Linked DNA regions of Homo sapiens: all the other regions are linked to region 2. The links come from fine-mapping of genetic effects on plasma protein levels. A gene starts in region 2. Each other region holds a variant in brackets. All regions are shown on one strand. Distances are from middle to middle. Region 1 overlaps CDH13 (cadherin 13). Region 2 holds the start of HSBP1 (heat shock factor binding protein 1). Region 3 overlaps CDH13 (cadherin 13). Region 4 overlaps CDH13 (cadherin 13). Region 5 overlaps CDH13 (cadherin 13).

The links. PIP is the posterior inclusion probability: the model's chance that the variant is causal. Protein levels are from antibody-based Olink assays in UK Biobank. Linkage for the fine-mapping came from a reference panel and not from the study's own genotypes, which makes the PIPs less certain.
Region 1: its variant is fine-mapped to the plasma level of the HSBP1 protein (UK Biobank, PIP above 0.99).
Region 3: its variant is fine-mapped to the plasma level of the HSBP1 protein (UK Biobank, PIP above 0.99).
Region 4: its variant is fine-mapped to the plasma level of the HSBP1 protein (UK Biobank, PIP 0.99).
Region 5: its variant is fine-mapped to the plasma level of the HSBP1 protein (UK Biobank, PIP above 0.99).

What each region holds. Positions count from the first base shown.
Region 1 is chr16:83,723,757-83,730,280 of GRCh38, reverse strand. All of the region lies in intron 10 of CDH13 (cadherin 13), which reads right to left. CEDORA (CDH13 antisense oligodendrocyte and neuron associated lncRNA) reads left to right here. Exons shown (of 4, transcript NR_188499.1): 2 at 1,282-1,413; 3 at 4,693-4,806. Among named protein-coding and RNA genes, the nearest start is that of CEDORA, 46 kb to the left of the region's middle. RefSeq lists an enhancer at 1,843-2,343. The variant ATG/G (reference allele first, on the strand shown) is at 3,005.
Region 2 is chr16:83,805,500-83,809,499 of GRCh38, reverse strand. It overlaps HSBP1 (heat shock factor binding protein 1), which reads right to left and starts at 1,522. Exons shown (of 4, transcript NM_001537.4): 1 at 1,379-1,522; 2 at 754-820; 3 at 75-195. The coding sequence starts at 1,423. The coding sequence ends at 77. RefSeq lists silencers at 1,086-1,375, 1,393-1,569 and an enhancer at 1,227-1,728.
Region 3 is chr16:83,783,076-83,789,599 of GRCh38, reverse strand. CDH13 (cadherin 13) reads right to left here. Exons shown (of 14, transcript NM_001257.5): 13 at 6,128-6,346. Among named protein-coding and RNA genes, the nearest start is that of CEDORA, 13 kb to the right of the region's middle. The variant A/G (reference allele first, on the strand shown) is at 3,306.
Region 4 is chr16:83,773,900-83,779,340 of GRCh38, reverse strand. All of the region lies in intron 11 of CDH13 (cadherin 13), which reads right to left. It also overlaps the pseudogene LOC124903810. Among named protein-coding and RNA genes, the nearest start is that of CEDORA, 3.7 kb to the right of the region's middle. The variant A/G (reference allele first, on the strand shown) is at 2,062.
Region 5 is chr16:83,765,726-83,772,249 of GRCh38, reverse strand. The region is part of intron 11 of CDH13 (cadherin 13); the gene reads right to left. All of the region lies in intron 1 of CEDORA (CDH13 antisense oligodendrocyte and neuron associated lncRNA), which reads left to right. Among named protein-coding and RNA genes, the nearest start is that of CEDORA, 4.0 kb to the left of the region's middle. RefSeq lists an enhancer at 2,638-2,777. The variant A/T (reference allele first, on the strand shown) is at 2,695.

The sequences.
Region 1 (6,524 bases), 80 kb after region 2:
ATACTCAGATTTGCATTGTGAAGATCTGAGAGAGGGCCTTAGAATAATGCATAGCTCAGACTTATTTGGCTGAAATATTTAGCGACAATTATATTTTCTCCTTCAATGTTTACTATAGAAAAATAAAAAATCAATCAGGGAACTGTTGATCAAAAGTGATAATGGAATGCTACGTAGACATTAAAAGCCATGATGAACACAGCATGACAAGATGACAACACATACGAAGTAAATCTTTATAGTAGGTAGGTATGTGTATAGCACCGTGAGGGTCCACATGCAAACATGTGGCAGGCTCGCTGCCCCCTTCTCACAAGCACGGTAATGACTTGGCAATGGCCAGGTCAGCTTCAAAACCCCTCTTTGTATGAAGCCCTGTGTGCCAAACCCTTCTTTTTCACAGGGCTTGACATACAATCCCAAACAGATTTGCTGCTGCTGGCTGAGAAAATACCTTGGAAGGGAATGCTAGTGGCAGTTGCGGTAATAATTATGATCATGATGATGATAATAATAGAGTCACAGATAATATTTATTGAGCACTTGCTTTGTGCCAGGGAATTTCCAAGCACTTTACATGGGTCAGCTTATTTAAGTCTAACAATAACTTCATGTGGGTGGGATTACTGACCCATTATATAGATGAAGAAACAGAGGTGGTGAGGGACTAAGTAGCTGGGTCCAGGACACACAGCTAGTAAGTGATAGAGTTGTCCAACCATAGCGCCCATGCTCTTAACAGTGATGCCTCGCTGTCTGACCTGGGTCTTAGGAGTAGTGGTATCTGGCTAGTGGGATTTACATCTTTCTTAGTTTTGCCTATCTCAGTTGCTAAAATTTTTACCATGAGCCTATATTTGTTTTGCAAATAAAATTTTTTTGGCAATAAAAAGACTAGTAATACAAAGATGATTTCCTTTATATCTCTACATTTCCATTTTCTCTTCTTTGTGAAACCTTATTACTATAGATGGTATATTTACTATATATACATACACATATGTATAATATGCATGTCTTATCTATGATATGTAACAGTATATGATGTATATGCACATAAATAATATATCCATTTTATACTTGTGAACTGAACATTTGTTGCTGTTCCCCCCAAATTCGGATGTTGATAGAACTCTAACCCCCATTGTGGCAGTACTTGGAGGTGGGCCTCTCCTTAGGAAGTTAAGGTTACATGAGGTCATGAGGATGGAGCTCTGATCTGATAGGATGAGGATCCTTATAAAAGGAGACCCTGTATGCTCCCTAATCCCCACCCTCCAGGTACATGCCCCAAGGAAATGAGGCTACATGAGGACACAGCAAGAAGGTGGCTGTCTGCAAGCCAGAAAGAGAGCCCTCCCCAGAGACTGAACCAGCTAGAACCATGATCTTGGACTTCCAGCCTCCAGAACTGTGAGTAATACATGTCTGTATTCAAGCTGCCCAGTCTGTGGTATTTGGTTATGGCAGCCTGAGCTAAGACAATACTATCTAAATATTAGGTTGAACCACACAGTTGCCATTTCTCTCGTCAAAACCCGTCACATCAGCAATTTCACATGGCCCAACCTAATATATAAACATATATACAATAAAAACGGCATGTCGTAATTGTGTGCTTTCCTTCCTGCTGGGCACAGTGCTTTGAAGGCCGAGAGACACGCTTATTTATCTTTGCTTTCTCTTCTCTCCAGGCTTCCATTGGCACTTGGTAAACACTGGTGACTGAGTGGGTAAATTACAAAGATGAGCATTTTGAATTCCTCTTCCAACAGAAGCTTTAATGTAGTTCTTATCAAGCCTAATTCACTCACTAAAAAGAATTGCATTGCACATATTGGCAGGAGCTATTGAACTGTTGTTTGTCAAGACCTTTTCTCCTCGTTTCATAGGGACTCAAACTAAATGTATCTTCACAACACACACACACACACACACGCACACACATACACATACACACATAGCCAGTGCCATTCAACTGTTAGCGAATCACACCGCTTACGGCTCACAGGCTTGTGGGGTCAGCCCGTGAGAACAGGCACCTTCTCTCCAGGGCCCAGTGTGCACATCAAAGACTTAAACCCTGTGGTCGAGGATAGACTCTGAGACAGAGACGTGGTGTGTGGCTCTGAAGCCTGCCCGCGGTGCTGTTCCCCCTTTCCAGGCAGCGTGCTCACTGCTGTCCACATCTGAGTATGTGTTGCCGCATAACAGACTCCTCAGAGGAGCTGTGGCTCTTTGTACAGTCACAGTTTTCAAAAGCTTTTGCCTCACAAAAGAAAAAGCAAAGCGCCTTCCCTCAGGCAGTTTTCAATTCTTCCCTCCAAATCCATCAGTCAAACTTGATACTTAAACCCTTGAATCCCAAAAGCTCCTTTGAGAAGCGAGCCCATTAGCAGCGGGCGGGAATGGCTGCCCTCCCCGCCAACGCCCCTGTTCACTCCCTGGGCTGCCCTGCTGTGACTGGTGAGCAAAGTTGTCAGCCAGTTCCGTCAAGGGATCTGTCATTCCCAAACCTGTTTGGTCCTTAGTCCTCCTGTCCTGAACACACAGGCCTTTCCTGGAGAGCTAGCAAGCCTAAGACTTTTTTGGCCTTTGAATGCAATTTTATTTTTTAGGGCTTCTAATGTTGATGTACTAACATTCTCGGCTTATAAAATCTCCAATGTTGATATTTCATTTAGTAAAACTGATATTTTTCTTTCTCAATGCGGGAAGGTTGGAAGGTTCTCCTTTGAGAACCCACTGCCGCAGTGGTGATCTCTGGAACAGGTGGATAGGTGTGCACTAAATAAAGCAAGCAGAAGAAGATGTGCTGGGAGAATCTCGGTGATGGGGCAAAGGGTGCTTGCTATAAAATTCTTCCAACGTTTCCACATGTTTGAAAACTGTTCTAAAGTTGAGAAAATACAATAAAATGATGAATGTGTCTGTTCTCTAAACACTCAGCAGCGTCCCTTCCCACGTAGATGTCTTTCTGCTACAAAACCATTAAGGATATCAC[ATG/G]TTAGCTGATTTCATTCCGATGAAATGTCCGTACTAGGCAAACCCACAGAGACAGGAAGCTGGTTAGTGGTCACTAGAGCAGTGGGGAGAAGGAAGCACGTTAACGGTTAAGGGGGATGGGGCTTCTCTTTAGGGTGCTGAAAATGTTCTAAAATCGAGGGCGGTGATGGTTGCACAACTCTGTGACTACACTAAAAACCATTGAATTGTATATTTTAAATGGGTGAATTGTACGGTATGTGAATTATATCTCATAAATCAATACAGCTGTTATACATGGGAAAGATAACTTCAAGGAAGGGAGGTATCCATGATTTCCAGGGCTGCTAAAACAGAACAAAACAAGGCACAAACCAAACACTCCTCCCTCGATAGTCTTCAGAATACTCTTGACTGACAGAACGCCAAAAAAGGACGGTGATTTTTTTTTTTTTTTGAGACAGAGTCTTGCTCTGTCGCCCCAGGCTGGAGCGCAGTGGCGCCATCTCCGCTCACTACAAGCTCCGCCTCCCGGGTTCACGCCATTCCCCTGCCTCAGCCTCGCGAGTAGCTGGGACTACAGGGGCCCGCCTCCACGCTCGGCTAATTTTTTTTTGTATTTTTAGTAGAGACGGGGTTTCACCGTGTTAGCCAGGATGGTCTTGATCTCCTCACCTCGTGATCTGCCCGCCTCGGCCTCCCAAAGGGCCGGGATTACAGGCGTGAGCCACCGTGCCCAGCCAACAGTGATGTTTTGATTTTTCTTCCATTTTTTGCCCGTTTAGCAAATACTCAACAAACAAAAGACGTGCAGAGTCTCCCCTGCAGGGCCTGCCTTCTTAGTGGCAATGGCTGCAGCAGAAGGGGCCAAGATAACGATTTGTCTGGAGAATGAACAAATAAATAAATAAATGAATGAATGAATGGACCCTATCTAGGGTCCTTGTTTCTCCAAAACCCGAACAGACACCCCGGTCTTGTCACAAACTTGGCCTGTGACCTGCAGCACATGACTGTCACTCTTGGGCCTCAGTTTCCCCATCTAAAAAACAGAGGTCATGTGAAATGATGGTCTCTAAGGTGCCTTCTAACTGATACATTATGACAATCTTTCCAAAAGCAATTGTTATTCAATGGCTGAGCAAAAAAGTTATAAAATTATCCCTTGTGGGAAGATTCAGACCAAGGTCCAGTTTTCTCTACATGAAAATGCAACACTTTACAATGTTGTGTAAGTGCAGAAAGTGAAAAGACAATCATTAAAAAGCTGAGAAAAATAAAGTCAGGAAAGAATGCTACATAAATCGCTCAGTCTGACTTCAAAGGGAAATTTTTTTCCAAAGTAAGATCATGAGAATTGATTTATGTCCTCAGAGCCAATGCAAATGCAGGATTTGTACAATATCCATTTATCAGTTCCAAAGGAGCTGATTTACGGCCCACCTCTTCTAGTTTGTATTCTGTCCAGCTCAGAAAGTTAACTGACAACACAGAAAGAAATATCCTCTGTCTCATTGCAGATGACGGGTTATAAATGAGCACAACTTGATTCTCTGTTCTGGAAAATTAGTGTTTTGAAACTCTCATTAGAAATTAGTCATTAAAGCTGTTCCCAAACTTGCCTGCTTGGCCCATCACTTTGTTGCTGTTTTTGGTTGTTTAACGTTCTGACAATGTCAGCCAGAGAAACGACTGCCTTTGTCTTAGGTTATTCTAGGTCGACTTCCGTGTCTGGATGTAACCAAATCACCAGCCAGACCGTGACCAGGACACATCATACCGCTTGCCCCCGGCAGAGATCCTGTGCCCACATGTGATAAGGTGGGTGATGCAGACCTGGTGCTCAGTATGTCAGTCACAAACTGTGTAGGCCTGGAGGAGGTGGAGACAGAGGTACCACTTGACCCTCCTTCCCAGATTAGTGGAGAAGACGGAACTCATGTTTCCCAGACTGACGCCTAAGGATAGATTAGATCCACAGGATACACAAGACCCGTTGCAGTCCTGCCTGTGTGTTGAGTGAACGGATCTAGCTCTCTTGGCCACCATGCCTTTGTTTATCCCATTTCCTCTGCCTGAACATCCTTGCCCTGGTCTACCTGCAAGTCTGAGCCCAGCTGTCCCTTCCTTCCTTGACTTTGACTGATGTGCCTTTCTCTCTGCTGCTGTTATATTGTAGTGTTTTCACCTCAAATGTCACTTTCATCATAGCTTTTATACTAAAAGGGTCTGTTTATTCATCTCTTTCTTTCTCTAGACTGAGTGAAACTGGATGACAGAGGCCATATGTGTCGTGGTGACTGTATATCCCCACTATCTGTGAATCAGGGCTTAATTTGCATTGATTGGCCTAATGAGGACACCAATAAGGGAGTCCCAGGGGTAGGATGATCCTGCAGCTGGAAGAAAGGCTGGGAAGCCATATAGAGTTGTACCCAAAGGCCATCTCAAGGGAGCAGCTCCTGGCTGCAGGTTACAATATAGCCCCTGCTCACCCAGCTGGTTGTGTCCCTGCTGACACTTCATCAATCATCTTGCTCCTGACGCTGACACTGCTCAGGCTGGGAAGGGAGGGGAAAGTAAGGATACAGGTGTCTAGGAGAGAGCTTAGGAGATAGGCTCCTTCAGTGAGATGGTAGGAGACAAGCCCCAACATAGTCACAGGGGGCTTCAAGTAAGACGCTTCCTCCAATCTGAGCTGGTTTGAGCTTGTACAACTTCATCCATCCATGTATCCATCCATTCATGCATTCATCATTCATCCATGCATTCATCCACCGACTCATGCATTTATCACTCACCCATGCATTCCACACTCATCCATGCATTCATCATCCACCCATGCATTCATCATCCACCCATGCATTCCTCACTCACCTATGCATTCATCACTCACCCATGCATTCATCACCCACCCATGCATTCATCCCCCACCCATGCATTCATCACTCAGCCATGCATTCCACACTCATCCATTCATTCATCACTCACCCATGCATTCATCACCTACCCATGCATTAATCACCCACCCATGCATTCATCATCCACCCATGCATTCCACATTCATCCATGCATTCATCACCCACCCATGCATTCATCACCCACCCATGCATTTATCACTCACCCATGTATTCATCACCCACCCATGCATTCATCACCCACCCATGCATTCATCACTCACCCATACATTCATCACCCACCCATGCTTTCCACACTCACCCATGCATTCATCACTCACCCACGCATTCACCACTCACCCATGCGTTCATCACCCACCCATGCATTCATCATCCATCCATGCATTCCACATTCATCCATGCATTCATCACCCACCCAGGCATTCATCACTCATCCATGTGTCTATCCATGCATCCATCAATTCATGTATCCATCCATCTATCCATCCATCCATCCATCCATCCATTCTTCCATGGATCTATGCATCTGTCCACCCATCCCCTCATTCTTTCAATATTTATTGTGTAGCTATTATATGTCAGACATTCTTCTTTACTCTGCATATATGAAAGAGAACAAGG
Region 2 (4,000 bases):
CAAAACTCCGTGTCAAAAAAAAAAAAAAAAAAAAAAAGAAAAGAAAAGAAAAAAAAAATTGCCCCCTTCCTCACCTTCAACTCTTTTGCGTGGCAGGTATCTTGTTTTCACTTTCCAGTTCTTCCACCCCAGCCTGTGTCATGAGGTCCGCGATATTCTTTTCCAGATCATCAATGCGACTACTCATATCATCAAGTGCTGAAGTTAAAGACAACGCGTGCCAACATCTCATTGAGCCTTTTTCCTCCCGTCCCTGCAGACTACAGCCTTAAACACAACGACTTTAGGGAAACTGGTCTTCCAATTTTCTTTCGACACTGTTACACGCTGGTGGGTAAGAGTACAGGACTGTGGGGCATGGCTACCCCGCATCGGATTCCAGCCCTGACCCTTACTAGTGATGGAACCCCTAAACCTCAATTTATTCATTTGCTAAAGATGATAACACTACAACCCACTCATAAGGTCATGCTGAGCATCAAAAGACACACACAAAAGCGCTTAGTTCACAGTGCATGGTCCACCACACCAGCTATTAGGATTGGTAGACGTATGCTCCTTGAGCCAGGAGTCTAACTCAGCTTTGCCCCTAGCTCTCGGCGCAGTCCTTCTCAGAAACACAGTACAATCCAAGCTCAAATTCTACAAGTGAATGGCTGAAGCTAGCCTGAAAACTACTCATTTATCCCCACCACTGCCCGGCAAATAGGCTCCAAAGGCCCACAGGAGGCCGACTGCAGATAAAAAGGATATTTCTCCCAATGATCTGGTCAGACATGGTCTGAAATTTATCTTGCATCTGCTGCAGGAGTGTCTGCACCTAAGAAAAACCGAAACAAACAAACACGGTCCACATCGATCCTGAGACAACTTCCTGGGATCAGGACGCAAGCCCTGGTCCCGGGGTTCCAGCCCCATTTCTGCCTCTGGACAGCTGTGCGGCCTTCAGCAAGATCTTCCTTCTCTGGGCTTCCGTTTTCCAACCTGTCCAATTAGACTGCTGGGCTGGGGAGGCCGCTGCGACTCAAAGCTCAGGGTCTTTAGGTTGTTTCTGCCGGGCTGGGGCACCCGGGGGTGTGTGAGGAGTTGAAGGGCGGGGAGGGTGTCAGAGGTAGGCGGGAGGGACCCGGAGGGCGTTCGCGACAGATGAATGGGGCTACTGGAAGGGGTCGGGCTTGGGGGCGCCCGCGGGGAGACTGGCCCGCACCGAGCGCCCCGGGGGTCAAGGTGGCCGGGAGCCTCGGCCAGAGACGCTTCCAGAAACGGGGCCTCGGCAGACGCCACGCGCGGCCGCGGTGGGCGCGCCTCTGTCCAGCAGGGCTTGGCCCGGCGCCGCCCGGGAAGGCCGCGGCCTCCGGCCCTCACAGCCGTCCCTTACCACCGAGGTGAGGTCCTGCACGGTCTTGGGGTCAGTCTCGGCCATCTCCCCGATGCCCAGCTTGGCGGTGATGTCTCAGACCGTAACCTACACTTCCGTTTGTCCGCTCAGTCGCCCCGGGCCGCTGCTTCTCGCGACGAGACTGGCAGCTCGCGGGACCGCGGGGCATTATGGGAGTAGTAGTTTCTCCCGCACCGGAAGGGCCTCGAGGCCGCGCGCTTCCGTTCCAAGGAGCGGCCCCACCCCACTCTCCCCGCCTTCTTTCGCATAGCCCCTCCCCTCCCTCTATGCCCCGCCCCTCACGCAGCGCGCCGTCAGTGGGGTGGAAAGTGAGACCAACTCAGAAATGGAGCAATAGAGGCAGGGAGTGGTCTTGGCCTCTCTTCCAGGCTGTAGTCAGTCGAAAGACGGCTCTGGGGTTTCTTTGGCCTGTCGGGACGAACTTACAGAACTTTTGCCCTTCAACAAGCCCCACTGTACCCTTGTAACTGCCCCCAAGCCAAGGAACATGACCCACCCCTACCCGCCCCGGGAGCCCCATGGCTCCTGTCCTGTTCTGTCATCTCCACCCTATGAAGGTGGCCAGCGTCTGGAGTTTAGCCCAGTAGGTTCATTGTGCCCGTCAGGTTCATATGAGGGGATTCAGACAGGAAGCTGTCCATCATGCCTGGCTTCTTTCACTCCACGCAATGCCTGCTGTTGAGTGGGGAAGGCTTCCGGCATCAGGGTTAGACTGTGGGTTTGGGTGTTGAAGGAGGTGGGCACTGCTGATTTGGAACCTCAAGTTCCAACCCCACAGGTGGTCTTTAGGATTGGGTCTCATGGCAAGGGGATAGGAGAGTCCTTGACTGCGGGCCTGGCATGTTCTGGAAACTTTCACACATCTCATTTAAGGACTGTGCTATGTGAGGGGTCAGCTCCAGTTTGACTTTAGCTAGGGAGAGGCTGTAAGGTGTTAGAGCTGTTACGGGAAAGGGTCCTGATCCAGACCCCAAGAGAGGGGGTTCTTGGATCTCATGCAAGAAAGAATTCAGGGCGAGTCTGTAAAGTGAAAGCAAGTTTAAGAAAATGAAGGAATAAAAGAATGGTTACTCCATAGACAGAGCCCTGAGGGCTGCTGGTTGCTCATTTTTATAGTTATTTCTTGATTATATGCTAAACCAGGGGTGGGTGATTCATGCCTCCCCTTTTTAGACTATATAGCGTAACTTCTTGACGTTGCCATGGCATTTGTAAACTGTCATAGCGGTAATGGGAGTGTAGCAATGAAGACAAGCAGGGTTCACTCTTATTGCCATCTTGGTTTTGGTGGGTTTTGGCCGGCTTCTTTACCGCAAGCTGTTTTATCAGCAAGGTCTTTATGACCTGTACCTTGTGCTGACCTCCTATCCCATCCTGTGACTTAGAATCCTTTAACTGTCTGGGAATGCAGCCCAGTAGTTCTCAGCCTCAGTTTACCCAGCTCCTATTCGAGATGGAGTTGCTCTTGTTCAAACGCCTCTGCCAGACCCACCAGTGTCTCTAACAAACCCGGAATCCAGTTGGCCTTGAGGCATGAGACTTCAACTCCCTTTACCACCCCTTCCCCCTCACTCACACCTTTGCCCCTCACCCTTCACACCTCATCCTTTCCTATAGAGAGATCTTCCTTTCTGTGTAAGTATACACAACTTTTTTGTAATTGGCTGTTGTCAACTGGTATTTGGCTAGTGCTTTACCCGACTACTTGAAATAAAAATATCTCAGTGTTTTAAGTTAATCCTCAGAAGACCCTGTGATATAATTATCATAATTTTACATTTTTGAGAAAACAGATGCAGAGGCGTTAAGAAACTGGAACAAGGTCATCAAATTAAGGAAGTAAGAGACGCAGGACTTCCTGACTCTGCATCTTCTCCTTTTTTCTCACCATTCTAGAATTCTCTGAGTTTTTTGAGCTTAGAGCAGAGTTTCTCAAGAGCTGCAATACTGGCATTTGAGTCAAGTCGTTCTTTATTGTTGGTGGTGGAGGGGGCACCCTGTATATTGTAGGACGTTGGGCAGCATCTCTGACTTCTACCTACTAGATGCCAGTATCTCAGTTTTCTTAAAAGACTTTTTTTTTTTTTTTTTTTTTTTTGAGATGGAGTCTTGCTGTGTTGCCTAGGCTGGAGTGCAGTGGCACCATGTCGACTCACTGCAACCTCCGCCTCCCCGGTTCAAGCGATTCTCCTGCCTCAGCCTCCTGAGTAGCTGGGATTACAGGTGAGCACCACCATGCCCAGCTAATCGTAAAAGACTTTTCATAAAACTTCAGAACTCCTTAAAAACTAGTGAATAGCCAAGGTGAAGAAAGCCCTCAGGCTTCTGACTTTAGACCCCAATCCCTGGGACTCCCACACTCAGCAAAGAAAGCTGGGTGCCTGCACCCTGGATCTCTGAGCAAACCTGTCTTATGGCTGTGGGCAACTCAGGAACATGAATTAGCACGAGAATCTGGAGTTTTTCTTTCCTTTTCTGGTAAGACACTTGTGGTTTTTTTTTTTCAAATTCCAATTGGAAATTTGCTTTACATGAACAACAAACAAACTTGATACTCTTTTAGTGGAGGCATTATTTGTTCCTTTATTTTTTGCACTTAAA
Region 3 (6,524 bases), 21 kb after region 2:
AGGTGGGTGGATCACTTGAGGTCAGGAGTTTCAGACCAGCCTGGCCAACATGGCGAAACCCTGTCTCTACTAAAAATACAAAAAAATTAGCTGGGCGTGGTGGCAGGTGCCTGTAATCCCAGCTACTTCAGAGGCTGAGGCAGGAGAATCACTTGAACCTGGGAGGCAGAAGTTGCAGTGAGCCAAAATCGCGCCCTTGCACTCCAGCCTGGGTGACAGAGCAAGACTCAGTCTTAAAACAAAACAGACAAACAAAAAAAAAGAAAGCTACTAATTTCAGTGTTTTTTGAAATCACCCTCCTCCTTCTCCAATCCTTGCTTAAGGGTTTAAGCTCACTTCTGTGCAGCCTCTTCTCAATGTCATATAAATGGTAGCACACGTGGGTCGGCCACTTTGATGTCTGCTTTTATGCATTTGAGTGGTTGGGCACTGGTGGTTACCTGTTCCTGCTACCTCTGACCCAGATTCTTACATGTCTTATTATGTCCATCCCTTTTTGGTTAGGAAGAATGTCTTGGACTAGGTATATAATAAAACGTAAATCATGACATTTGGCAGGCATCTCTAACATTTAAATGAACAATATTAGAAAATCTTATGCCTTTTACACATGACCAGACCAAGTGTGTTTTTGAAGGTAAGTGGTAACACCTGTTTTTAACTGTTTTTTGGGGGCTGAAACTACTGTCTTTGTACAGCAAACCATTGGAGTGTCAACTGAATACTTTCCAGCTACACAAGGAGATCCAGAGTTTCACTGTGGGAATAATTTCGACTTTACACACAGGTGCCCCTACTTACAGTGAGATACAATCATCAGATGCTAGATGGGATGGCTCCCCTTAGACGAGCACATAAAGCACATTTGGTATTTCACAGCTAGTGTACCTGTGCCTGTCTTTTATCAATGATACCAACTGTGAAGCAATTCTTTAGGGATTATCAGGCAATTCTGCCTTAGATTAACTTGACCCAAGAGCTCAGTTGAGAGATGAGAAGTGGGAAATCCTTGGCAACCTGCTGATGATTGTCATCTGTAGATCAGGAGTCTCAAAGTGAGGACCACAAGAAAATCCCTTGTTGGTAAGAAAAAAATACTGCCAAGTCTTTTTTTTTTAATCTAAAAAAAAAAATTCAATGTTTACTAATACTTAATATATGGGGAGTGTTGGTAGCAGAATGTGTATTATTATAAAAATATTGTATAAAAATAACCAAACACTGGGCTTTGAGCTAGAGGCCCCTGTCACCTGGGATGTTGATGCCATAGGTTGGATGGGCCTGGAAATCTGTATTTTAACAAGCAGGTGCACAGCGGCTCTGGTCTCCATTTAAAACACTCATTTCCAGTCCCGAGTAGCTGAACCGTGAGCAGGGTCCTGCAGTGCCTTTGTTCTTCAAAGAGATGTCACGGAGTGAGGCTTTGATGTTCAGAAATTGGATTTACAGAGGGCAATGTGTGATGTAACCCCCTTAATTGTCTACTTTCTGGGTACACACACGTGCGTGCACACAAACATACATGTACGTGTGTATATGCATTCCCACTACACACACATAGAATTTTTATCTCTTTGCAATCACATAGGAAGTACTGCTCTCCGATTTATCCAAACTCTGTTATTCTTGAGTTCCAGTTGCTCCTGGATCTCTGCAGGTGTTGTTTTTTGCTCTGTCGCTTAGGCTGGAGTGCAGTGGTGTGATCTCGGCTCACTGCAACCTCTGCCTGGCAGGTTCAAGCGATTCTCCTGCCTCAGCCTCCCGAGTAGCTGGGATTATAGGTGCTTGCCACCACGCCTGGCTAATTTTTGTATTTTTAGTGGAGACGGGGTTTGGCCATGTTGGCCAGGCTGGTCTTGAACTCCTGACCTCAAGTGATCTGCCTGCCTTGGCCTCCCAAAGTGCTGGGATTACAGGGGTGAGCCACCGCACCTAGCTGCAAGCATTGCTTGTAGAGCAGTGGCTTCTAAGTGCTGGTCTTTGGGCAGTGCTGGGCTTGTGGTCTGTCTGGCGCTCACTCCAGAAGCTGGTGGAAAACGTAGATCTCTTACTGTAGTAGCGTTGGTCATAGTAAATGATTCGAATGTGTCTGCTGATAAGGGAATCCACTGCACCGTATTCAAATGACAGGATCCTCCAGCAGGAGGAGTAAATGGAGCAGAGCGGGGTTCAGCCAAGGAACGCTGTGGGCTGACTCTAACCTCAAGTCCGTGTTTGGATAGCTCCCAGGCAAAGAAGGGTTTTCACGTTTTTAAAGGGTGGTACAAAAGACAGAAACAAACAAACAAACAAACAATAAAGATGAATATGTGACAGAGACTAATATGGCCCACAAAGCCACCTGGCCCTTTACAGAAAAAGTTTGCTGAACGCTGAATTAGAGCAACGTGGATGGACCTTGTGAATGTAACACAGGTAGGAAGAAAAGTAAGTCGCAGAATGGTATGCCCAATATAATATGAATTACAGGAGGTTTTACAAACTGCACAAAATAGAACTGTATGTGTCATGTGTGAATGTGTGTGAGTGAGTGTATGTGTCAGTTTGTGTGTAGTAAAAGGATAAAACATCTGGACACACACATGAATAGCTAATTCATGGTAGCTATTGTTTCTGAGGAGAGAGAACAGAAAATAAAATTGGGCAGAGAAACATAGGCAATTTTACCTTTGCCTGTAATATTTTACTTTCTGAAGAAAGAGAAAGGAAGGAGCTGGGTGTGGTGGCTCACACCTGTAATCCTAGCACTTTGGGAGGCCGAGGCAGGCAGATTACCTGAGGTCAGGGGTTTGAGACCAGCCTGGACAACATGGTGAAACCTCGTCTCTACTAAAAATACAAAAATTAGCCGGGCATGGTGGTGCATGCCTGTAATCCTAGCTACCTGGGAGGCTGAGGCAGGAGAATCACTTGAACCCGGGAGACGGAGGTTGCAGTAAGCTGAGATGACGCCACTGTACTTCAGCCTGGGCGACAGAGTGAGACTCTGTCTCAAAAAAATAAATAAATAAGTAAACAAATAAAGGAAAAAAAGAAAAGAAAGACAAAGGAAAGAAGAAAAAAAGAACAAAAGAAAAGAGGGAGAAATATGTTTCCTTTCATTTATCCATCTGTCTGTCCATGCGTCCATTCATTACCATTCCCCAACGCCCTATTCCTCAAGCTCAAGTCGTAATCTAGAGCACAAATGAAAGTTTCTAGGGCACTGAGCTCAGGAATTCGTAGTTTGAAAATGTTTCCTAAGTGGTTCTGACGTGCAGCAGCATTTAGGAACTACCACTGCAATTAACACGTTGCTCTTATC[A/G]CACAGTGGCAATTGTGTACGGCAAGCCAATGAGAAGCTCAGGCCAAATTTAGTGTCAGTTAACTCCATCCCCAACTCTTCCTAGTTGGTTTCTCTTCCTTGTCAAGTTTAACTTCCTGTCTGGTTCACATTTTAATTCTGTAAGCTTCTGAAACACTTTCTGGAAAGTTGGTGCTATAGAAATTCTCATACTGGATGTGTTCTGTCATCTCACCGTACCCTCCTCTCTGGAGGAGGGATGGTGCCAGGTTTTCTGGCACCATCGGTAGCAAACATCTTCACACTTGTATTCTTAACTTTACTCTCCTCCACCTGTTTCCTATTGAGTTGTGAACCGAAGGAACCAGCACGTCTTTAGGGTGGGGACAAGATTGGAGGACACTGTTAGAATGTCCAGGAGCCTGTACCTAAACGTTGGAGTCACTCACCAGGACGGTCCTGATTTCCCAGTGTCTTCGGACCACCTGGTGAGGCTTTAAAATGGACAAATGTCTAAGCTGCCCTTCCAGCCATAGGGTAGGGCTCAGGTATGGGTAGCTACTTTTAAAAGTTCCCCAGGTGCTTCTGTTGTGCAGCCAGACTTGAGATCCACCACCATCTCCCCAGCTGATACTATGCAAGAGTGACTTGCAGGTTGCTAGTGATGACTCAGCAAACCAGGCCCCAGACAGCATACCCTCACGAAGGGAACATTCCTACACTCTAGAAATCTAGGTCTAGGATATCTGTCAGCAAAGCAAGGGGGCAAACAAGCATAATGTGTTGCTATAAATTCATGGTATCTGCTATGCTCTGAAGTTTGTGCCCCTCCAAAGTTTATATGCTGAAACCTGATCCCCAAGGTGATGGTACTACGAGGGTGGGCCTTTGGGAAATTAGTGGGTCAGGAAGTCAGTGTCCTCATGGATGGGATGGGATGAGATGCCCCAGAGAGCTGCCTTGCCTCTCCCATCATGTGAAAATGCAGGGAGAAGGCGCCATATGTGAACCAGAATGTGGGCTTTCACTAGACAATGAATCTGCCAGCATCTTATTCTTGGACTTCTCAGCCTCCAGAACCATGAGCAATACATCTCTGTTATTTATAAGCCACCCAGTTTATGGTATTTTGTTATAGTAGCCCGAATGGACTAAGACAGTATACAAACTCCTCTGGACCACCCCTGCTCAACGTTTAGCCCAATTGCTGTACAGCCGAATTATCTGTGCTTTGACAAGGTTTCCTAATTTCTTCTCAGTCCCCACTCCCATCTCTAACCCTTCATCTGAAATTGTCTCTGCTTTACAGAAAAGACTCAGGAGAAGCCTCCGAGGGGTGGCCTCTTGATTTCTATTTTCTCTCTCTCTTTGCAGAAGATAAAGTTAGAAAGCCAGTGAGATAATCGAGGTTAAGTGACATTAGTACCTGAGACAGGAGGGTGGAGGCAGGGATGGATGGAAAGTGTTGGACCCTTAGACTCTGTTGGGCTTTGCAGTGGGAAGACCAGGAAGGAGACATGGAGATGATGGTGATGATGATGGTGGTGGTACAGTCATCAGAGACAAGTCAGGCAGAGGGGCAGGTCAGGAGGGGAAGATGATATGTTCGCTTTCAGAAATGCCCAGTCTGAAGGGCCAGTGAAATGCTATAATGGCTTCTTGTTTCCTTTTTTTTTTTTTTTTTGAGACAGAGCCTTGCTCTGTCACCCAGGTTGGAGATCAATGGCATGATCTTGGCTCACTGCAACCTCCGCCTCCCGGGTTCAAGTGATTCTGCTGCCTCAGCCTCCCGAGTAGCTGGGACTACAGGCATGTGCCACCATGGCTGGCTAATTTTTGTATTTTTAGTAGACACAAGGTTTCACCATGTTGGCCAGACTGGTCTTGAACTCCTGATCTCAGATGATCCACCCACCTCGACCTCCCAAAGTGGTGGGATTATAGGTGTGAGCCACCGTGCCTGGCCCTTCATTTTTCCTTCTACTCACAGGACTCTGGTCTTGCACAGAGCTTTATATACGTGAATGTCCAATGTTGTACTATGTGATTTCCTGGCAGCTCACCACTGTCAGTAGGATAAAAAACCTTCTGTTTTCTTTTTCTGTCAATTTCCCAACTTCCTAATTCACAATTACACCGATACGTTCTCAAAAGGTAAATTGCAAGGCCCAAAAGGCTTTTGGATGGTAACAGTTATATATGAATAACGGCTAAAGTTAACATTGGACTAGTATTTCATAAATAAGGAATATCTGAGACATGTATTTATTAATTTTATCCTCACATCTATACTACTTGGCATAATAATTCATTTGTTAAAAACAATGTTTCATGATATTATAGTCATTATTACTAGCCAGTGAAAAAACAGTGTAAATTATGCATTTATCATTTTCCCTGCAGCCCACCCTCCATCCATAAATTCTCACGACTATTCTCAGAAAGTCTCATAATATCTGTTTTAACCTTGCAAAAGATTATTCTGCATAATGTAGAGAGAAACAGGCCTCTGATAGACTAGTTAACTAATCTGGGCGCATTTTCATTAGCTCAAGTTGAGTGGCAGCTGTAGGAAGTTTTGCTTACCACCTAGTTTGCAGGCTAGCAATGAACACCTTTGCACAATCCCTCAGACTGGCTGGCAGGGATTGTTAAGATGCCTTTAAACATCAGTGGGAGCACTTTTACATATAACATGTTCTATCATACAGACATACACTAAAGATGAATGATTCTTCTGGGAAACATCTTCTTGGAAAGGTATATGGGAAAATGCTGGCTTCACGAACCCAGTGAAGTTACAATTTCCTGTTTGTGCATGCACTGGAGTTAGGTCAACTTACAAGCTAAGCTGAAGAGGCTGAGGAGCAGGACTGAGGGCAGGCTGAAGCGCAGGGCCCCTGCCGCGTTGCAGTCCACTTTGGAATTCCTGCAGGAGCACACTTGTACCCTGAGATCTGTGATATTCGTCATGGGTGGTTTCCCTGAATCTGTCACCATGATGGGCAGGTTGTAGTTTGCTTTGTTCAGATTTTGAAGAAGGCTTACCAGGGCGTGTGTATCTGTAAAGGCAAGGAGGGTTCTGGTGAGAGTGGATGAGACTTTTTCCAATAAAAGAGTGAGGTTTTGGTGATGAAAGTCACACCAAACAGGCATTGCATTTTCATTTATAATTGTGCGAATGCTTACATTTAAATTCATTAACATCAAGTGAAAATACCAGTTCAGATCCTCAGTGGC
Region 4 (5,441 bases), 31 kb after region 2:
CCGCCTCCCGGGTTCAAGCGATTCCCCTGCCTCAGCCTCCCGAGTAGCTGGGACTACAGGCACCTGCCATCATGCCCGGCTAATTTTTTTGTAGTTTTAGTACAGATGGGGTTTCGCTATGTTGGCCAGGCTGGTCTCAAACTCCTGACCTCGTGATCCGCCTGCCTAGGCCTCCCAAAGTGCTGGGAATACAGGCATGAGCCACCGCATCCGGCCTTAAGACTTCTGATTGAAGTTCTTTAGGCTTAATACTTTACCCTTAGAATACTAAGCTTCTGACACACACTAAAAAGTCATTCTCACACACTGAAATCTATTCAAAGAATGGAGATAAATATGACTTTTCCTCACTTATCAAATTAAATCTTTTACATAAGTAGCCAGGTATTCACACATGTTGGTGGCAGGGGGAGGACGGAGTCTCCGTGAGAGATGGCCATGGTTTCACTGCTGTAGCTCTACTCTAACTGAGGAGTTGACTAAAGAGGGAAAGATTAAATCCAAGACATTTTCTTCTGGGGGTGAAAAAGAGTCTCAGATGGCTGATGGTGCCACTGGGGGCTGGGATGGCTGACCCTGCTGGACAGGACAGATTTAGAAAGCTGGGTTAGTGATGAGAAATGAGATCACTAGCTGGCTACAGGGGCATAGAAGCAATCATCATATAATCTTTGGACCTTATTTTTAAAGCCTTGTTTTTTTCCTGATATTTCAGCTACTTCCTGAAATGTTTTTCATTTTAGGAAATACTATTTTAAGATAATGGCCCTCATAATCACCAATCTAATAATGTCTTTCTTTCTTTTTTTTTTTTGGTGAGTCTCACTCTGTCACCCAGGCTGGAGTGCAGTGGTGTGGTCTCGGCTTACTGCAACCTCTGCCTCCTCGGTTCAAGTGATTCTCATGCCTCAGCCACCCAAGTAGCTGGGATTACAGGTGTGCAACACAATGTCCAGCTAATTTTTGTATTTTTAGTAGAGATGGGATTTCACCACGTTGGTCAGTCTGGTCTCAAACGCCTGACTTCAAGTGATCCACCTGCCTCGGCCTCCCAATGTGTTGGGATTACAGGCATGAGCCATTGTGCCCAGCCCTAATAATGTATTTCACTTAAACATTAAACAATGTTAATAAAACTCAGCTTGCCTTCATTTTTCTCTGAGTTCATCTTTAATCATTTGTGCATTAGAGGTTTGCTCTTGGGACAAACCATTTGTTAGTAGTTTCTAATTTTCTGCAAGAAAGGTTAGAGCCAAATTCATAGGTCACACATTTTAAGTATACAGATTTGCCTTATTCCCAAAATAATTTGAAGCACCTCTAAAATTACAGCACCATAATTTTATACAGTAGTACAATCGTTTCTTGGCCTCTTGGCTAAGATGAAGTACAGATCTGTTCTTATCAGTTTAATAAACTAATACTATACAGTACTAATCTAACCTATGGCTTTCTTTTATTTTTCTAATCCTTATTTTCACTTAGCCAGATTTCCAAGTATAATTTTATTTTCTCTTGTACTATATTTATGTTTTGAAACGCATATTAAGTTTGCAGTTAGGCTATCAGGTTACACGGGGGTTAGAAGGGTAGTGAGTATTTGAAGTTGGCATACAGGACGCAGGCAAGTCCTAGCAAAGAAGCAAGGAGACCTCTTTAGATGCAGACAGCTTATTACTTAGACAGTAGAAGCAGGCGTGGGCATGATGGCCTTGGCGCAGGTCATGGCAGAATAAAAGGGAATGGACAACTGCAACAGAAAGAAGGGATGTTGCAGTAGAGCCAACTCCAAGCTGCTTCTCAGCAGTTTTACAGCAGCAGCTGTGTCCTGAGAGGGGCAGGCAGAAAGCCCCCGCACCTCACAGAACCCGGAAGGCAATGAGAAACTGGCTGGGGGACCGCAGGGTGTTCTGCCAAGACTCAGCGCAGCTGCAGGTCATACCCTCCCCATGTGGCTCTACATGCAAAGTCATGGGGTGCCGTGGTGGAGCTGCTCCTCCAGAGCTGAGGGCACTGAGGATGGCATGGGCTCCTGGAGGGCCTTGAGTAGCATCACAAGGG[A/G]CCTGTACCAATTCTACAGAGTGCACGAGGCCACCAGAGGCTTTCCGGAAAGGCAGTGATCCAGGAACAATCTGATCTGACTTATCTTCAGAAAGCACACGATTGGATTGATAGGAAATGTGAGACCCTGCAGGCAGGCGGACCAGCCATGGATGAAGAGAGGCATGATGTGTGCAGCTCGAGCAGGAAAGCAGTGTCTTTTCTTGGTGATCAAGCACTCAGATGAGGCTGCCCGAAGAGCAGAGTGCAGTGGGAAGTGGGAAGACCAGCGGTTCAGTCTTGATTGTGCTAACGACCCCTTGAATTCAATGCACCTGTGCAGCTTGGCGGAAGTGCCCAGGCTGAGTTAGGGGTTGGGAAGTCATCAACACATAGATGGCTTTGAAACTTCTCTAACAAAGTGGTTACCCAGGGTGAAAGTTCAGAATGCCAGAGGGGTGGAATACGGAATCCTGAGAGACCCCAAAGTTTAAAGAGCAGATGCTAGTTTTGCAGGAGAGAATTGGAAGAGGAGTCAATGACCCATAATTAAATGTGTCATGACCCCTACGAGGATAAGAAGTGAAGAGAAGTAACCGGATTTTGTAAGGAGAATGTTACTGGTGACACTTTTGGAAGAGGTTTCTGTTAACGGGGAAAAAACCAGCTTAAAGGAAGCTGAGCAGTGAGTCATGAAGAAGTGCGAGCCGATACTCTTTAGCGGGGCTGGTGGAAATTTAAATATATCAACACCCAAAGACAGCTACAGAGTAAACATTCAAATAAATGTCTGCTAAAATAGCAACACAAATGCAATTGATCATTTGAAGGATGGCTATTTCTAATGGTGGCATATCATCAACTTTCGTTAGAGCGCAAACTCAAAAGAAATGCATAATTACTTTGAAGTTGGTTTTTCACTGTCAGTTTTAGTCATTTAGTTAAATTTCTTTACTGAAAAATTATTTTTCTCTTTTTATTGAACTAATTGAATATCTCGGAAGAATCCATTATGTTTTTTCACTCTGAATATATTATGAAGACAAGTCATTTGGTAGAATGGATGAGAAGGCGTTATGAGCATTTGAAATACGGCCATAAGAATTGGCCTTTTGTGAACTTAAGTATACTACTGTCTTCAATTTCCTATGTGTTATTCCCAGGCCAGGCTGGTGATGTCTTTTTCTGAAGTTAGTAAGATGAGTTTGTTACTTTGGGCGATGAGTTAAAGACAAGATTCACAAAATCCTGAGGGAAAGAGCCTCTCTCAGTTTCTATGCACGGGATAGAGAAAAATCACATCCAAAATTCAGGTGAAATTCAAAATTTCAAAATTCCTCACAAGCCCATTTGGCTCCAATCATTTCTGGGGCCCAGGAAATATAGGGGCTTCTAAGTATTCTCTAGATTTTCAGCAAAAATCCCTCACCCCTCTGTTCCTCTTTCCATCAGCAGCCTCCACCACCATGGAACCACTCATAACCAAGAATCAAAACCAAGGCACAGTGAAGACGGGGTCCCTCCTTTATGAATTTTCTCTTTCTTTTCTTTTACTTCTTTCTTTTTTCTTTTTTTTTATTTTTGAGACAGAGCGTCTCGCTCTGTCTCCCAGGCTGCAGTGCAGTGTGGCACGATCTTGGCTCATAAGCCACCACTCCTGGCCGGAATTTTCTCTTTCAATAGGGAAAACAGGTCAATTTGAGCAAAACACCCAGAAATGGAGCTAGAATGGGACTCCCTCTTTGCAGCTCCCTTCTGGAGGGAGCCCAGGGGCCATGTTCTCATGGTAGCCATTTTAAGGATCAGAGAAGTCTAACTTCTAAACATGTGGGGGTCTGGCTGAGTTTGTAGGGGCTTCTGTCTTTATAATGTTAGGAGCTGTAAGGACTGCTGACAGATGAACCATTCCAGCTTTCAGGTCTTCAACGTGGTTGGGAGGTGAGTTTCCAATTGGGAATCTGCTGAAGGTCATGGCCCCTGCCTCCAGAGAAACGCACCTGCATTCAGAAATATACCTGAAGAGTCCACAGACACGCAGATTGCAAGCCCAGGCTTGGTGCAAGATCAGAGCAGAAGATCTGAGGCCAATTCATTGTAGGTATGGTGAGGCTGAGGTCCAGAGAGATTTAGGACAGGCTCAAATGGACACCGTGAGTGTCAGGCCTCCTTCTCTAGAGCAAGCATTAACCTATACTTTCTCCACCAGAATTTTTATTACATAGCTTGAGTCTTACAGGCTCTCATTTTAACCATGAAAGCAAGCTATAATCCCTAAACCATAATTCCAGGTTATTATTATTACTATTTACAGCTTCCTTCTTATGAGCTGTTCTTTTCATTGTGGTGAAATATACATAACATAAAATTGACAATTTTTAACCACTTTGAAGTGTACAGTTCAGTGGTGTTAAGTACATTCAAATTGTTGTGGGAACATCACCACCATTCATCTCCAGAACTTTCTCACCATGCAAAACTGAAACTCTGACCCATTAAACACCAAGTCCCCATTCCCCTTCCCCTGGCCCCTGGCAGCCACCATTCCACTCCTTGTCTCTATGAATCTGACGACTCTGGGGAACCCATGTAAGTGGAATTTTTTATTTTTTTTTCACAAATAAATGGTAGGCCGGGTGTGGTGGCTCAGGTCTATAATCCTAGCACTCTGGGAGGCTGAAGTGGGCAGATCACTTGAGGTCAGGAGTTTGACACTGGCCTGGCCAACATGGCGAAACCCTGTCTCTACTAAAAATACAAAAAATTAGCTGGGCATGATGGCACGTGCCTGTAATCCCAGCTACTCTGGAGGCTGAGGCAGGAGAATCGCTTGAACCCAAGAGGCAGAGGTTGCAGTGAGCTGAGACTGCACCACTGCACTCCAGCCTGGGCAGCAGAGCAAGACTCTGTCTCAAAGAAAAAAAAAAAGAAATGGCATTTGACTAGGTCATTCTAAATGTATTTGAGATTCTTAGCTTCCTGTTCCTATTTTGCTTGCTGGAAATGACTATGACAGCCTGTGTCATAGTCAGGCTGGGTACCCAAGGAATCATCATTTCCAGCTAGCATAGTCATAGTTGTCCCTGTAGTAGGACAATAGGCAGGATAGGCGCTGGGACCAATGTCCTAGGCTTGCTGGTATCACCGGCCATGCACAGTAAAATAGCATTTACTATTTCTGTAGGACGAATAGCTCAGTAGCCGAAAATGATTATAGAGTTGAGTAGATCTTTTTCAGAGATAACAGCAGGGGGCTGGGCTCCACATGGGGACAGTCTGTGCTGATGGAGGTTTGTGAAGCAGAAATGAGACCCCAGAGCTGAGGCCTCGTCTTCCAGCTACAAGACCATGCCAGGCAGGGAAGGGGGAGGGATAAGGATGGAGAGAAAGGAGGAAGCTTGGGA
Region 5 (6,524 bases), 39 kb after region 2:
AGCCAGTATAGATTTTTCTTCATTTCTCCATTCCTGAAGTATGGCTCCCTCCTTTCTCTTAAGCATGTCTTTCAGTCTTATACTACTTCTTTTCTTAATATTGAGTCTATTTGTATACATGGATAGTTTAATAGGCATCTCATTTAAGGTTCTCAAATAAGTATACAAGCTAAAAAGTCACCCCCCATCCTTCTCCACCCACAGAGTGTACATTGTGTTGGGTGATATCATGGGGAAAATACCAGGAGCAAACCTTAGCTGCAGGAATCTCTTTTCTCTTGTGTCATTGACTTCTTATTAGAAAGACATGTGTTTTGGTTACAAGGTTGGCAATTCCATCATGCAGCAGTGTGAATGGGATGTAAGGAGATATTTTTAATTTTACCTCCTAATACAACCATATCAAATCCCATTTCCAAATGAGGAAATGAGGACTTGTAGGCACAGATATCTGGAAACAAAGCCTATTTAAAATTGCTTAGTAGGAATGACAGTTTTCCTTCCGACCCATTTTCAGTGACAGCCTGTCACTCTTGACTGAGAGATCTCCAACCTACAAATGTTGGTGGGTTATTTATTTTGCAAGCAGCCCTCCTGCTGCCATACAATGGCAAGTCTTGAGGGGGAAAGGGTTATCATTTTCTTTCCTTTGGATCTGAGTTACTGGCTCTGTTGCTCTAGAGGACTATGCCTTTTAGACCATGGCGGTGCTTTTGCTTCATGGACTTGGCACCCTGCCACGGTCTTCCTGGCATTCAACCTCTGCTTGCCCTTGTTTCTGGCTTTGTCGTTCCCACTCAGCACTGACAACTTGTAAGAGCCTCAGCACATTATATGACCACGATAGGACCACATGGATTCCACTGCTGGATTTCAAACTCCAATAATTAACCTTGTATTTCTTCAAGTTGAGCAGTGATAACTGCCTATGAGATGGCCAAGTTGGCCACCTGGCCTGCCTGGGTTACTCTTGGTCTGGTTGGCTCATGACTTACACTTAGCCTTTTGTGATCTTGGTGTAGGGAGGGCAGAACTGTGCGTTTTCTAAGAGAAGCAGGGTAATATGATTAATAAAAGGTGAAGATTTACGTAGAGGAATCGAGCACCTGTTATCATACAGTCTAGGAAAAGTCCAAGCAAACCAGGCAGGCTGTTGCTTTGAGCACATGGGGGTCTACATTCTAGTTTTTTCTCATTTTCTAGAAAAGAAAACTAGACACTCAGATTAAGGAAAATGTCCAAGGTGCTCTAACATTAGTGTGTCAGAGGCATTGAAATCAGAGCAACTCCATCTTGAATAGGTGCTGGGTAAAATGAGGCAGAGATCTACTGGGCTGCCTTCCCAGGTGGTTAAGGCATTCTAAGTCACAGGATGAGATAGGAGGTCAGCATAAGATACAGGACATAAAGACCTTTCTGATAAAACAGGTTGCAGTACAGAAGCTGGCCAAAACCCACCAAAATCAACATGGTGACAAGGGTGACCTCTCGTGGTCCTCACTACTGCACTCCCACCAGCACCATGACAGTTTACAAATGCCATGGCAACATCAGGAGGTTACTCTCTATGATCTAAAAAGGGGAGGCATGAATAATCCACCCCTTGTTTAGCATATCATCAATAAATAACCTCAAAAATGGGCAACCAGCAGCCTTTGGGGCTGCTCTGTCTACGGGGAGTAGCCATTCTTTTATTCCTTTACATTCCTAATATACTTGCTTTCACTTAATGGACTCGCACTGAATTCTTTCTTGCGTGAGATCTAAGAACTCTCTCTTGGAGTCTGGATCGGGACCTCTTTCCAGTCACAAGCATGTCACCTGTTTAAGAGCTGTGGCCCCCTGGCAGGGCATCCCCATCCCTGGAGCTTTCTGGCTATTCTATAAAGTGAATGGAATGCCTGGCAATTGTAAAGCACTTCCCCGTCCATAAGAGCCAGAGCCACAGAGCTCGAAGTTTGAGTATTTTGGTGCTTGTGGTTGGTACTAAACACTGGTAGAAAGGGTAAAAAACAGTTTCCTGTGCTTTTCTTACCTACATGGCCAACAGTATATTGCTTTGTGTGGGAAGCCTGTAGAACTGAACCAGGACTCCTCCAAGAAACATGAGCCACGCGTGGTTCTCCTGGCATTGCTTTGACGCTGTGGGTGTGGATGCAATGAGAAACAGGGTCAGGTTTTGAAACCATCCCCACAGGGTTGACGGGAATTGCATGCCAGGTTCTGGGTACAAATACAGTTATAATTCAGCGTTAATCAGGCTGCACCCTGGCCCAGTTCCTTGTTGCAGTAGGTCATGTACCGTAACCAAGTACCCTGATTTTTCTGAGGTGGTTTAATTACTTTTTTCTCTTCTCTTCTCCTTTCCCCTTTCAGCCTGCTTCCTACCTAGCCCTTTTTGAAATGCAAAATAACCTCTCACCTCCCCCTCACCACACATTCCCTACAAGGCAAGGTCATCTACGTGCCCCAGTGATCTCTTCTCCAGAATTGACAGTCAATTTGCAGATCAAAGCACATCTCCACGGAACTCCCACTTCTGGGGTGGCCTCAGGAGGACATGGTGAAAACACGCCCACTTGGCCACTTTTACAACTTATTTCTGCCCAGGAAGGCACCAACTCAACTGTATGCCAACTCAGCTGTTTGGTAGATAAGACACCAGGCTAGCAGGGGGACTTCCTGCCCTTGCTC[A/T]CTTCCCCTTTAACCTTATAAACATGTCTGCTTTTTGCTCCAAAGATGAAGCAGCACACTTAAAGCAGGACACTTTGTGTCTTTCCAAGCTAGCTTCAAAAATAAATTCACTTTTCTTGTACCAGGCCTGGATCTTGTTAATTGGACTCTGCTGCAGTGAGTGGCTAACCAGTTCCTCAGTTACAGTAGCACTAGATCCTGACATTTGCTTCCCCACCGTTCCCCTAGATAGGATCTCTGACATTAAGGCCAGAAGACTGTTTAAGAATTGATTTGCATCCCCATTGTTCCTATAGACACTTAAGATGTTTTTCAGACACACCTCCCCAGAATTCCAGCCACCAGTTGGAAGTCTCCCACAGGGGAACAGGATCAGCATGAGAACACAGCTGCTTCCTCTCCCCTTCCTATGACTTCACCCTGTACTCTTGATCTCCACACTTCTGCCCACTCCAAAGCCCTCAAAAACCCAAGCCTCAACTTCCTTGGGGAAATGGCTTTGAGGTTCCCTCCCATCTTCTCGTTCTGTGACCCTGTGGTCAAGGTGTTTGAACCAGAGCAACTCCATCTTGAATAGGAGCTGGGTAAAATGAGGATGAGACCTACTGGGCTGCATTCCCAGACGGTTAAGGCATTCTAAGTCACAGGATGAGATAGGAGGTCAGCACAAGATATAGGTTATAAAGACCTTGCTGATAAAACAGGTTGCAATAAAGAAGACGGCTAAAACCCACCAAGACCAAGATGGCGATGAGAGTGACCTCTGGTCATCCTCATTGCTACACTCCAACCAGCACCATGACAGTTTACAAATGCCATGGCAACATCAGGAAGTTACCCTATATGGTCTAAAAAGGGGAGACATGAATAATTCACCCTTTGTTTAGCATATCATCAAGAAAAAACTATAAACATGGGCAACCAGCAGCCCTTGGGGCTGCTCGATGTCGTAGCCATTCTTTTATTCCTTTACTTTCCTAATAAACTTGCTTTCACTTTACTCTGTGGACTAGCCCTGAATTCTTTCTTGCATGAGATCCAAGAACCCTCTCTTGGGGTCTGGATCATGACCCCTTTCCATTAACACTATGATTAAACCTGTTTCTCTGCTGCAACCTGGTGTCATGGCATATTGATTTGCTGTGTGCATTGGTTAACAAACCTATTGCGATTACAATTTGTGTGTGTGTTTTTTTGTCTATTTAAATTTCAGGGATTTTATTTCATGAAAAACCTTGACCAAACAGGATTTCCACTTAGCTAAAAAACACTGAGATTTTTTTTTCACAGGTTCTGTTGTTCAGTAGCTATATATATAAGTGCTTTATATCTTGTCATTAATAGACATAACTAAAAACATAGTGTGATCCTAATTTAAAAATCTACATATGATTAGAGAAAAATTAGAAAGACATATATAAAAATGTAAGTGGTGATTATTTCCCTAGGTAATTAACATTAAAATAATACATTTATCTATTTTTAATTTTCTTTACAATAACCATGAACATGTTAAACTCAGAATTATGCAGGGATTAAAAATATTTTTTTCTAATTCTACTTTACTTTTTTCTTACTCTTTATTTTTGCGACTATTAATTTTTAGTACATTTACAGAGTTGTGCGACCATCACCACTACCTACTTTTAGAACATTTCATCACCCCCAAAAATAAACCTTGGGCCAATTTGTACTAACTCTTCATGCCCACTCCCAGCCCCTGGCAACTACTGATCAATTTTCTGTCTCTACAGATTCGCCTATTTTGAAGATTTAATATAAATGGAGTCATATAGTAGGTAGTTTTTTGGGTCTGGATTCTTTCACTTAGCATAATGTTTTTGAGGGTTGTACATGTTGCAGTGTGTATTAATACTTCATTCTTTTTTATGGCTGAATAATAATCCATTGTATGGATAGACCATGTTGTTTATCTACTCACCAGCTGATGGACATTGGAGTTGTTTCCACTTTTTGTCTATTACGAATAATGTTTCTGTATTAGTCTATCCTCATACTGCTAATAAAGATATACCCAAGACTGGCTAATTTGTAAAGGAAAGAGGTTTAATTGACTCACAGTTCCACATAATCATTCAGAAGGAGAATGAGAAGCAAAGTCACAACTTACATGGCAGCAAGCAAGGGAGCTCATGCAGGAGAACTCCCGTTTATATAACTATCAGATCTCTTGAGACTTATTCGCTACCATAAGAACAGTACGGGGAAAACTGCCCCCATGATTCCATTACTCTAGATGGCCCCACCCTCGACACTTGGGGATTATTACCACTCAAGGTGAGATTTGGGTGGGGACACAGCCAAACCTCATCAGCTGCTATCCACATCGGAACACAAAGGACTAGATATACATGTTACAAAATTTCTAGACCAGTAAGACAAGACTCCAAATGCCTCTCCCAAGAGGGTCCCATTAGAAGAATAGGATCCCTGGTCTTGCCACAGTGAGATGGTATATGAGTCCATTCTCATGCTGCTATAAAGAATTGCCCGAGACTGGGTAATTTATAAGGGAAAGGGGTTTAATTGACTCACCGTTCCGAGTTGCTGGGGAGGCCTCAGGAAACTTACAATCATGGCAGAAGACAAGGAGAAGCAGGCATCTTCTTCACAGGGTGGCAGCACAGAGTGAGTGCAAGCAGGGGAATGCCAGATGCTTATAAAACAGTCAGTTCTTGTGAGACTCACTCATTACCATGAGAACAGCATGAAGGAAACTGCCCCCATGATTCAGTTACCTCCACCTGGTCCTGCCCTTGACATGTGGGGATTACAATTAAGAAGAGATTCTGGGTGGGGACACAGCCAAACCATATCAGATGGGTTGGTTTCATAGGCACAGAATGTTAGGATCTCAACACAAACTTTCAGAAGTTAGCTCTGAGAAGTCTTAGAAAGTAGTAGACTTTTCCAGCCACTTGTCCCAAATCTTCCCAGAGGTAGGCCCAGAGGCATGCAGCATATGTCTTACCTTGGAAGTTATGAGTACAAGTGGTTTTATTTGGAAACAGTGTGCAAAGTGAGGTTGTCTGTGTGAACAATGAAATGTAGGAAGACAGAGAACAGGGAAAACAGGAAGCCCATATAATAAGTGCTCAGCATATGTTTGAATTCTTAGGTTGATGCACAAGTAATTGTGGTTTTTTGCCATTACTTGCAATGGCAAAAACTACAATTATTTTTGTGCCAACCTATAATTTGATTTAAAAAACAAATATGTATGGCTCTTCCTGTAAATGTAATCATATATGTTTGTATTTCCATAAGTTTGCTTCTATTTTGAGAGTAGTGGCTCTGTCTAAATTCAAATCCTTCCTAATCTAACCCTTGGGGAGAAAACAGTGTGTGGTGGGGCAGAGGTCTGCAGAGCTGGGACTCAGAACAGGGTGCCCATACCAGGGACATAGAGAGGGACCTTGGCTAGTGTCCCAAGGAAGCCTGAGGCCCACATTCTGGGAGGATAATCAGGAAGATGGGCCCATCTGAGAGGAGCCACAATTTAGATGTGAGCTAATGAGCAATCTTGAGCATGGACACAAGAGCGGTACAATCTATGGCCCCAAATTCCCTCTAGGTAGCTGTGCATCTGTTGAACCTTCAATAAGCAGCTGTGAGCAAATACATGCCAGGCCTCTTATGTCATCTGAACAGGACTCTAAATGTACCTTCACCTTTGCTTTAAAACTGAGAGTGAGCCAGGTAACAAACCTGCACGTGTACCTCCTGTTTAAGATAAAAATAGAAAAAAAAAAAGAAAGCTGTAAGTGAACCAGGAGTCTTCTAAGGTTATCCTTTGTTTTATTTTATAC